3 linked regions of the Homo sapiens genome follow. The protein of the gene in region 2 interacts with the protein of the main gene of each other region in a pairwise test. Each region holds a gene or a part of one and is shown on either strand. Other genes may lie near its edges. The genes, in order: RBPJ, PTF1A and TRIP12.

Region 1 (3,356 bases), on a different chromosome or scaffold from region 2:
ATGTTTTTAAATTACTGGTGAAATCTAAAATGTACAAACTGTGAGGTTAGCAGCTTGCAAAAATATGAAATTTTCATTTGCTGTTAATTATATACAAATACATGAAGCTATACACAGATATTTATCTCAGGTATGAGCATCCTTAACACACAATCCTCAGACATGCAAGCAATCCTTCCTCAAGGAAGAACTCAAAATTATGAAAATGTTCTCAGAGAAAACAGTTAACATCTAGTTCCAGGGTTCTTAATTGAAGAACAAAGAGCCCCTCAGGATATCCAAAAATAGATTTTCAGTGCTCATTGAATCCTCTGAAATTGTGTGCAAACATTGTATAGACAAAGCATTTTTCTGGGTGAAGGCTCAAAATCTCATCAGATTTATGTCGTGGTTTCCGAAGATAGTAATGATGACATGCTTTGAAAGCTAATGTTTTACATTTACTCAGAAGGCTTTCATGAGGTTATGACATGGGCAGATGATTTAATAAGACAGTTATGGTTTCATGTGAAACTCCTTTGCAGAGAGATGCCCATACACACTGATGGGCATGCTGAGTCCCTGGTCTAGGTGTGTTAAGGTAGGGGTAGGGGCTTTGCCTTCCCATCTTGATTCCCTCCCATGGAACATGCATAAGCTTCTAGCTGTTGCCTAAGCATGAGGAGTCCCATTGTCTTTCTTAGGAGTCCTTGAAGAGTTTTAAACAGCCATTTACATCACAGATATTGATCTGCTGTTAATGAAATTGTACCTGCATTGGTATACTCATAATGGTTGTTCTGAAAGGTATTATTATTTAATATGTCACTGAAATAGTTTGTATTATAAGAAAAACTGCTGTCTATGGGGTTTCTGTATTAGCATTCTGTTTGTGTTTATGTAGGGATTGGCAAAGCACCATACTTTAGAAAGTTTATAAGTTTTTACTGAGTTATCTTCTTATTAACTCTTGTCTGAGGGTTACTTGGTAAAATTTTCTTATCCTATTAATACAAACTGTATAAAACTTAGTTTCTAAACTTCTTTCTTTATTAGGCCACTCCATGTCCAAAAGAACCAAATAAAGAGATGATAAATGATGGCGCTTCCTGGACAATCATTAGCACAGATAAGGCAGAGTATACATTTTATGAGGGAATGGGCCCTGTCCTTGCCCCAGTCACTCCTGTGCCTGTGGTAGAGAGCCTTCAGGTGAGAACGCCTAGTCCAAGTTGGCCTTCAGCTCTTTGCAGCTACTCTCAGCTGTGACCTGGCATCATTTCATTTCATGGGAGTTTTGATTTTTCTCCAATCGTCTGATTAGGGGATTTTTATATACACCATTTGTTGATTTAAAGAAAAAAAAACAAAATTAGGAGGAGCGTACTTGCCAGAAAATTTAAATGTAAATAAACTTGTATGTTATCTTGAAATGTTTTTAGCTAGCTTTGTAATAAAAAACATTTTAATTGCCCTTTTTTAAAAAAAACAAATGAAAGTTGAATGAGAATCTAATTTGTGTACTTTAATGAAAAATGAAAAGTTTTCTCAGTGTTGTGATTTTCTGTGAATTGCAGTTGAATGGCGGTGGGGACGTAGCAATGCTTGAACTTACAGGACAGAATTTCACTCCAAATTTACGAGTGTGGTTTGGGGATGTAGAAGCTGAAACTATGTACAGGTACTTGATAAAACTTTTTGCATCATCCAGAGGTTGTGAGGGGTGTGGGTACAGGAGATTCTTTCCTGGCACTGATTGTAATGTATTAAACAACCTTGTGTTAAGTCTCATTTTTAACATGTACTTTGCTTTTTAAAGTGTTTTTAAGTGATTTCTATTTCCTCCTCAGGTGTGGAGAGAGTATGCTCTGTGTCGTCCCAGACATTTCTGCATTCCGAGAAGGTTGGAGATGGGTCCGGCAACCAGTCCAGGTTCCAGTAACTTTGGTCCGAAATGATGGAATCATTTATTCCACCAGCCTTACCTTTACCTACACACCAGAACCAGGGCCGCGGCCACATTGCAGTGCAGCAGGAGCAATCCTTCGAGCCAATTCAAGCCAGGTGCCCCCTAACGAATCAAACACAAACAGCGAGGGAAGTTACACAAACGCCAGCACAAATTCAACCAGTGTCACATCATCTACAGCCACAGTGGTATCCTAACTACCGTCTTTTTGCTAGGACTTAAACTGACTTGAGTGTGGCAAAAAGTTAACAAAAAAGGAGAAAAAATGAACAATCGTTTGTGGTTTCTTGGGAAAACTTTTCATACCAGGTGATACTATTCAAAAACCCCGTTGTCTCCCTGCAAGTGCTGATTTGAAATGCAGAAGCCACAGTAAAAAAAAAAAAAAAAAAAAAAAAAAAGAAAAAAAAATCAAAATGTATAAATATTGGAAATCAAGTTTTTCAGCTGTTTTGTTGGTTGGTTGGTTGGTTTTTGTTTGGTTTTGTTTAAATGGGCAAGAAGTAAATAATGTGGCTGGAATACAAGTTGAACAAACTAGAAGACACAAATCTAACATAGTTTTTATGGACCAAGGAACTTGTATATTGTATAAGCTTTAGTAAAAGGTACATTTTCACCATACCTTTTTTTATATCACGGTATTATAGTACACCTTGTTACCAAATAGGTTGTTCTCTTCCCCACCCACCTTTGAGCTTTTGCTCTAAAATACATTCAGGTTCCAAGCCTGACCATCCTTGTTTAATCTATCATACTCTTCCAGGTTTTTTTTTTTTGGTCTAAGGCTGGAACTTTTTTCTTTTTTTTCAGCTGAAGTCTTATGACTTTTCATGAGTCAAAATTGTTTGGATTTCAGCAAGTCAAATCTTGCAAAGGCCTGCATATTTTTTTTAAGATTATATGAAGTCTGTGCAAAAGCTTTAAAAAAATGCCTCTGCCTTGCCTGCAATACATGCAATGTATGTTAACTTAGTCTCTCTTCTCAGACACTGTTGGTAGTTATTTCTGTGTTTTCCTTTTTTTAAAAAAAAATATGGACTTATTGTGGTTATCTGAGAGGTTCTAACATTCACATGCAATTTGGTGTGGCCATTTAGCTATTAATGAGTTAATGGCGCAGAACTTGTTGATATTTGAAGTGTTCTCTCCCCTTTTCCCATGACGTAAATACATAGGTGTGTTCCAGGATTTGTTCAGGTTTTTCCCCCCTCCTAATCTTGTACATAACTTGTATTATGTGTAAGTTAAACATTTTATTTTGAACTTGGAATGTTCCCAGTGATTTCATTCAGCAGGGTATTTTCTGCCTTGTTGGCAAGTGACAAAAAATATGGGAAGTATTTGCTACCAGTTGGTAGATGGTGCCCTTAATGGTAGAATGAGGAAAATGTCCGCAAAAGCATGT
Region 2 (3,874 bases):
GTGAGGAGTAAGCCTGAGTTCCAGGTACCTGATGCTGTTGCTGCCGAAGAGGTTGGTCACAGGGCAGCTCAAGAGTAGCCCCTTTCCCAGCCAGTGGAAGCAGAAAGGCCCATTCGCTTAGCCCACTAGCTCCCTGCTCCCACAGTGCACCGCGCGCTCACTTTTATACACCAGGAATAGACAACGTAGGGGTGACCTTGGGTAAGTCAAATGTCATCTCTGAGCCTTAACTTTACCATCTGCAAAATGGGAACAATAAATACTCCAGGATGTATTTGCATAGGGTGTTTGGAAGGTGGCCCAAAATACAGACAAAAGTTGCTGTGTAGGGCAGGCGACCTAGATGAAGTGCTGTCATAGAAAGTTGAGGTCTAATCCTCTAACCTACCCACCTTTAGGCTAAGTCTGAAATGTAGTTTCTTACTAAAAAGCTACACTTTGAGTCTCTGGTTTGGTTAATTTTTACTAAGTTAATTCTTTTTAAAGAGTATCTATCAAATCATGTACTCAAAAACCTTCAGGAAAAGGTGTAAATAGCATTTATTGACAACGCTTAGAAATAAACCATATCTGGCAATAAATAAGCAGGACGTTTTCTGGCCAGAGTTCTCCCAACAACACAGAGTTCAGGAAAATCATAGGCTATTGCATATTTTCAGAAAATCAGGATAAGTTATATAAATTATATATTTAAAAAGAAATCATCTATTTCATCAACTCAACAGGATAATAAATAGATAAATAATAAACAGTTGATTGCCATTCGAAAAATTTGATTCTTAAATTACATTTACATTATAGATATTTACATGTACAATATGCACAGAGACATAATCAGATCTTCAGCCGAGTCTGGGACTTCTCAGGACACAAACTCAAATGGTGGTTCGTTTTCTATGTTGTTGAAGGAAGATTTGCTGTTGAGTTTTCTGGGGTCCTCTGGGGTCCAGACTTTGGCTGTTCGGATAATATTTTGTTCCTTGAGTTGTTTTTCATCAGTCCATGAGAGAGAGTGTCCTGCTAGGGGAGGGAGGCCATAATCAGGGTCGCTGGGGGAGGGGGACCCTGGACAGGTGAGAAGAGAAAACAGACTGTGAATATCCAACCACATTCCCATTGGTCCCATCAGGTCCTTTAGGACCCTTTCCTGGGTGCTCTCCGGTTATACTAGAACCACCCTCTTCCTCCACACTTCAAGTCCCCACCGTCCCCTCCCAGGAATCCGAGGAGCTGCAAGTCTGGCGGGGACGCGCGCCCTTGAGAGCCGCGGTCAACGTGGCAGAAAAATAAAAAAAAAAAAAAAAACGAGAAACGCGAGCTCGCATTCAAGTTTTTCCGTGCCCACCGACAATCCGTCGGTCCGACTGTCTGCTTGGCAGTCAGCTCCCCCAGCCCCTCCGGAGCCTTCGAGTGCCCGACCCCTTCTCCCTGAGCTGGGAAGCGGAAGCACTTACGGGTGCCCCGATGGCAGATGATGACCTTCTGGGCCTGGCTGCCCGGGCTGTCCCCGCCCAGGCGCCCGCCGCCGCCCGGCCCCCCGCAGCCGCCCGCGCCACCGCCGCGCAAGGGCAGGTCGGCCTGCACGAGCTCGCTGAGGAAGTTGATGTAGCCGATGGCCAGGCGCAGCGTGTCCACCTTGGAGAGGCGCTTCTCGTAGGGCAGCGTGGGGATGTGCGAGCGCAGCCCCTCGAAGGCGTCGTTGATGGACTGCATGCGCCGCCGCTCGCGCACGTTGGCCGCCTGCCGCAGCTGCTGCAGCTCCGCCTCGGAGCGCACCCGCCGCCGGCGCCGCGCCGCCGCAGCCGCCGCTCCGCTCAGGCCGCGCAGCCGCGCCCCGGGAGACAGTACTGCCGCCCCGGCGCACGGGTAGGCCAGGCACGAGGGCGGCGAGCCGGGCGAGTAGGGGAAGCCGCCTGGGGGCGCCCCCGTCTCGCAGCAGTAGCCGCCGCCGCCGCCGTCGTCTGGCTCACCGAGGCCCCCCGAGGACGGCGGGGCGAGCGCTAGCGGGGCGGCCGGGGGCGCGGGCTGCAGCAGCAGGCACGCCCCGTCGCGGTAGCAGTACTCGTGGAGCTGGTGGCTAAGGAACTCCACCTCGGCCTGCTCGTCCGCCAGCAGCTCATCGCCGTCCTCCAGGGGGTCCCGTGAAGACTGGTCGGTGAAGAAGTCGTCCTCGTCGAAGTACGAAGAAGGAAAGGCGTCTAGGCCCCCGGGGAAGTGCTCCAGCAACACCGCGTCCATGCTCGCCGCCGCAGTGGGCAGCGGGACTGCCGGGCTGCGCGTGTTAGTTCTTGGTGAGTTTCTAAGGCCCGTCCGAGCCCCTCCCTCCCGGGGCCCTGGCTGGGGGCAGCTAGGCGGCCGCCGGGCTGCCCGCCCCCGGGCCTCCCTGGAGTGCCCGCGGCCGCTGCGCTCTGGCCCGCGCTCGCGCTGCGCTGGGGAGGGCTGTGGCGGACTTCCTGGAGCTGAGGGCCGGCACGCGAGGATTCTTATAACAACATCCATAGGCGCGTGCCAGGGACCCATCGCGCCAGCCAATCAGAGCGCGGTGTGCCGGCGGCGAGGGGGCCCGGAGGCGCGGCGGTGGGCGGGGGTGGGGGGCGTTTTGCTCCCTTTGGGAGCTCCTGGGGCGAGGAAAAGGCGGGGTCGCGCGGCCCGGGGCTCCTCGCACCGCTCTCTTCCCTCTCCTCTGCCTCTGCATACTGGATTCTGTACCTGCCCCGCGTGCGGCTCCAGGGGCACCTGCGTCCCGCGGTGCCCGCTGCGTACCCGCGCGCGCTGAGCAGCGCCGGCTCCTTCCGCCCTGGGACTGGGGCAGCCGCGCGCCGCGTCTACACGCGGCCAGAGAAGTTCCTAGGGGTGCGCGCCGGTGGCCCAGACGGCGAGAGCGGAGCCCGCGCGGCGATCGTCCTCCTCCGCGGCAGCCTGGGCAATCTAAGGGTGCTGCCCTCAGGGACCAGGTGGGTGCATTCCGCCACCCCCTTATCCGAGGTGCGCGGGGCTCCGGCCTGGGTTCTGCTGGGGGCTTCTGTCCCATCTCTGGACTTTTCAAGGGCTTTTGCACAGTTTGCAGAGTATATGCGGGTGTCATTGGAAGGTGATCCGGGCCCACTCCCACTGCGTTCCAGACGCAACACGGGGGCTGGGAGCGCACCTATGGGACTCCGCTCTGGAGCCTGGCTGTGGTGCCTGGTGCGGGTCCCCAGCGACATCGGCTCAGTGGCTGCCTCCCCTGCCCTCCCCGGCCCGGAGAAAGGAATGGGGAGACGGGAGGGGCAGCCCCCAGAGCAGCTCAGCGGGGCGCGTTTCTTCTGAGAGCAAATCTAGACCCTAGGGATTCTGAGCAATAAACTGGATACAAAAGGAGTCCATTGAATCGTCTGCTCCGGCGCAGTCCGGAGGGAAGGCATTGAAGTTAAAGGGCAGAATGTGAATCGTTTTCAAAGCCCGAGTCTCTCACCTTTCCGACTGGCCACAGGGACCATCCCTGAATGACTTGTTTTTTTCTTTCTCGACCTTTCTTTTCTGAAAAAAAAAAAAAACACAAAACGTATGCAGCTCTGCCCCAAGACAGACTTTATCACAGACTGCGATGCAACGTGAATTCCTCTTTTTAAGAGCAACAAAGAAACACTTTCAAGGTCTGGGCAATTCCGGTTAAAAGCCAGGCTGCAGCTTCCACCCCGGGAGAGTTCAGAAGCGCAGCCATCGTGCGTATTCTCTCTACAGAGGACTGAAAGGAGTCGTCCTCCTGGGCCGCTTCCTTTTTCAGGCACTTGTCTCACTAGAGGCTTCTGTTGGGTATTCAGACGCCTCTCAAATTCCAAGTCATGCCTCTTCAGATTAGTGATTTAAATACGCTTCTTGGTTTTAGACATTG
Region 3 (3,651 bases), on a different chromosome or scaffold from region 2:
GGCACTGCAAGTGAGATAAAGAATCTCCTGCTGATGGTACTGAAGTTTCACACTCACAAACCCACCCATAGGTAGAATAAATGCTAAACATCAACATCGTACCCACCTCCAACAGGCAATCTTGGGCTACCAGTCACAAACTGGAGAAATAACCTCTGCTGCTCATTATCAAAACTACTGAGAATCTCAAACAAAAACTTCACAGCCCGACTATAACAGAAATAAATATACCAAAATTATTTCATCAGGTTAAAATAGAGTTTTAATCACACTGCATCGCATCACATGACATAAAAATTAGATTAGCACTTTTAAATTACACATACATTTTCCATTACAATGTACTTAAATTCGTTTCTGTTATGACTAGACTAGAATTCAAATGGAATGATTACAGTTGTAATAAGTAAGACTTGATCTGGTACTGTACAGATATTTCTGCTTTACTATATGTAATAATGGGGAACAAGATTAAATCTGTCTTCCCCAACCCCTAGTATTTTCACAGAAATACTTGAGAAAGAAACCCTTGGGTCTTAATTTCCCATCTTCAGAGAAATAAGGCCAAAACAGAAGTAAGCATCCATTAACAGGTAGACACATTTTAAAATGAACCACTCCAACTTTTGTTGTTTACACATGTGCGCATGTGTGTGTACACACACACCCCTCTCCACATTCTTCAGAATCAACAGAAAAACTGGCAGACCCCAGTACTTACCTGTCATGAGTATAACCATGATCAGGCCTACAGCATTCCATCAGTGTCTTTGCATCCCAAGTGTCTGCTTTACTGCCACAAAGGAGCTGATCCAGCTGTGAGTTTAAATAAGGGTAAAAAGAATTACTAAGGAAACATTTGTTTACGTGAGTGAAAATAAAGGTCTACGTGTACCATAAAAGAGTATCAGTCTCAGTACTAAAACCTTCTGCTTGGGACCTCTTTCCAAAAAAAAAAAAATAATAATAAAATAAAATAAAATTTAGAGATTCCATTTCCTTTTTAGCTGTACGCTATTAAGTACCCTGCCCATCTGCAGGGACTTGGTTCCTGAGAAACCCTTCCTCTCAAACCAAAAACACCTGATGACCCTTGATTTCAGTTTTCCTTTCTTCTCATTACTTTAGGTGCTTTAAATGGATAATCTGCTTCTAGTCAGGGAGATTTTATAAATCCTGGCTTTCAGAAACACAAAGGTATACAGTAACAGATGCCAAGGGAGAGAACATTGAGCTGGAGAAAGAAGTGGGAGAAGCAAGCTGAACTAGGACACAGCAAATGGGTAGGTCTTTACACTTTGTAGAGAGGCATGTCTACGCTACATGGTTGGTTGTATGGGGACCAACCCAGATATTATAGAATGAATATTAGAAAGCAATAAATGCTTTCATGTCCTTATACTTTGAGAAAATCCAATTTGAGGCCAATGAAATTTAATATCTATTATATAATGCTCACTGTCTGGTCCTATATATTTAAAGACAAAGCTTTGCTCTGTTGCCCAGGCTGGAGTGTAGTGGCCTAATCACAGCTCACTCCCGTCATGATCTCCTGGGCTCAAGTGATCCTCCAACCTCAGCCTTCCAAGTAGCTGAGACTACAGGTGCATACCACCACGCCCAGCTAATTATTTTTTTTATTTTAGACAAGGTCTCACTATGTTGCCCAGCCTAATCTTAAATTTCCGAGCTCAAGTGATCTTCCCACCTCCATCTCCCAAAGTGCTGGGATTATAGGCTAAGTCACTGTGCCCAGCCTATTTAATTTCCATTACTCTGTGATAGGGGTTATTCCAATTTTACAGATGAAACAGTCCTATCAGATACAGTAACTTGGATAAGGTTATACAGCAAGTGGTGAGGACCATGATTCTATTCCAGGTGACAAGCAGTGCCTACAAGTATCAGGCACACTACATGCTTAAGTAGACACAAATATAACTGAGATTAAGACGTTAAGTTAATCAAAAATTTATAGATTTAATCAGTAGTGAACATACACTCTAAAACTAGTATTCAAACAATAAATAAAAAGGTTTCAAAACTGAGGGAAACTGGACACATTCTAGAGGCTTTCTGTATCTCACTACCAGTGAGTAGTTCTTTTGAGATTTGGCACTTGAAATTAAAGACGGTAATATGGTTTGGCTGTGCCCCTACCCCAAATCTCATCTTGAACTGTAACTCCCACAATTCCCACCTGCTGTGGGAATGACCTGGTGGGAGGTAACTGAATCATGGGGGCAGGTCTTTCCCAGGCTATTCTCATAATAGTGAATATGTCTCACGAGATCTGATGGTTTCAAAAAGGGGAGTTTCCCCGCACAAGCTCTCGTCTTGTCTGCTGCCATGTGAGATGTGCCTTTCACCTTCCACCATGATTGTGAGGCCTCCCCAGCCACGTGGAACTCTAAGTCTAATAAACCTCTTTCTTTTGTAAATTGCCCAGTCTCGGTTATGTCTTTATCAGCAGCATGAAAACAGACTAATACAGGCGGCTAGAGAAAACCAAGCACATAAATCCATTTCTTCCATTCTCAGAAGTATTCTCTGTATTTGGCAATTAGATAATTTATAATACTTTCTTAAAACTTCAAGGACTAACTTTGATTGTGAAACAATGTCTCATCGAAACGAAGTTTAGTTAAGGAATAAAGTCAAGCCCCCTCCATGTCTCTCTTTGCTTCCACAGCAGTACAGAAACATGTAGAACATGCCACACACAGCACAAGTCCCCATTCTCCACTGAATGGCATTGAGGGTCTTGGCTGACAAAGATGCTATGCTTACTGTCACGCGTGGAACCCGCTCCCCAATCTAAGAGGGGACACCTATTTAACATTCTTCCTTGCTCAGGCAATTTCCTTGTCTTTCCCAAACATCCATCCCCTGCTATCTAACACCCATTTTTTTGTTTTTGTGCAACAATACGGTCTTTGACTAGGCAGCACAGAAACACTCCACTAAAATTATAGGTATGACCATTTCTTTTAGATATAAGCTACTCACTTCCTCCGGGTAGAAGTACTGAAGATGACTGAGTGGGAAGACTGATTCAAATCCATCTCTGAACGAATCAAATTGCCTAGAAACGCCTTCATTTAGTGCCCAGAATATAACCAGCTGCAAAAAGAAAGTTTTCAAAAAACTGTGACAAGATTTCAAATCTCTTTACTATTTAATATGTGGCAAAGTACAGTGAAACACCCTTCTGGATCACTTTATAAAGAACAAACAAGTTATTAAGACTTTAAAATAATCTGCTAGAAAACTACATGAGTAAAACATCAGGTCAACATCTAATGTGGGGCCCCTACCAATAACAAAATGTAAAAAAAAAATGCCATGTGCATTTACATTTAGTGTGTTTTAAAAATCTATTTATGTGAAACCCATGCCATACAGTTATATTACCTCACTGGATGGGAATCAAATGAGAATTTCCCAAGAGGATAAAATGTTATTGAGAATTAAAGGTAATGTTTGAAGAATCACAATTAGCCACTATTAAGGGTTTTTAATTTTTAACGTAAAATGTTTAGTTCTAAATCCTGTGAAGTTCTTAGAACCCAACCTGTCTGCAGTGTGTGCTTCCTACTAAAAGTAGGCAAAGCCTGGAAATGAAGTCACATGCAATTGAAGGGTAAGAAA

What was found.
Region 1: the proteins of PTF1A (region 2) and RBPJ interact in a two-hybrid assay, tested with the Homo sapiens proteins (one study listed by BioGRID).
Region 3: the proteins of PTF1A (region 2) and TRIP12 interact in a two-hybrid assay, tested with the Homo sapiens proteins (one study listed by BioGRID).

Annotation. Positions count from the first base shown.
Region 1 is NC_000004.12:26,428,863-26,432,218, forward strand, and holds part of RBPJ (recombining binding protein suppressor of hairless), read left to right. Parts: intron 1-1,035; coding exon 1,036-1,191; intron 1,192-1,556; coding exon 1,557-1,660; intron 1,661-1,829; coding exon 1,830-2,145; 3' UTR 2,146-3,356. UniProt on the Homo sapiens protein: Transcriptional regulator that plays a central role in Notch signaling, a signaling pathway involved in cell-cell communication that regulates a broad spectrum of cell-fate determinations.
Region 2 is NC_000010.11:23,190,895-23,194,768, reverse strand, and holds PTF1A (pancreas transcription factor 1 subunit alpha), read right to left. Parts: upstream 2,458-3,874; 5' UTR 2,239-2,457; coding exon 1,455-2,238; intron 1,066-1,454; coding exon 863-1,065; 3' UTR 524-862; downstream 1-523. UniProt on the Homo sapiens protein: Transcription factor implicated in the cell fate determination in various organs. Binds to the E-box consensus sequence 5'-CANNTG-3'. Plays a role in early and late pancreas development and differentiation.
Region 3 is NC_000002.12:229,768,510-229,772,160, forward strand, and holds part of TRIP12 (E3 ubiquitin-protein ligase TRIP12), read right to left. Parts: intron 3,124-3,651; coding exon 3,010-3,123; intron 817-3,009; coding exon 722-816; intron 211-721; coding exon 107-210; intron 1-106. UniProt on the Homo sapiens protein: E3 ubiquitin-protein ligase involved in ubiquitin fusion degradation (UFD) pathway and regulation of DNA repair.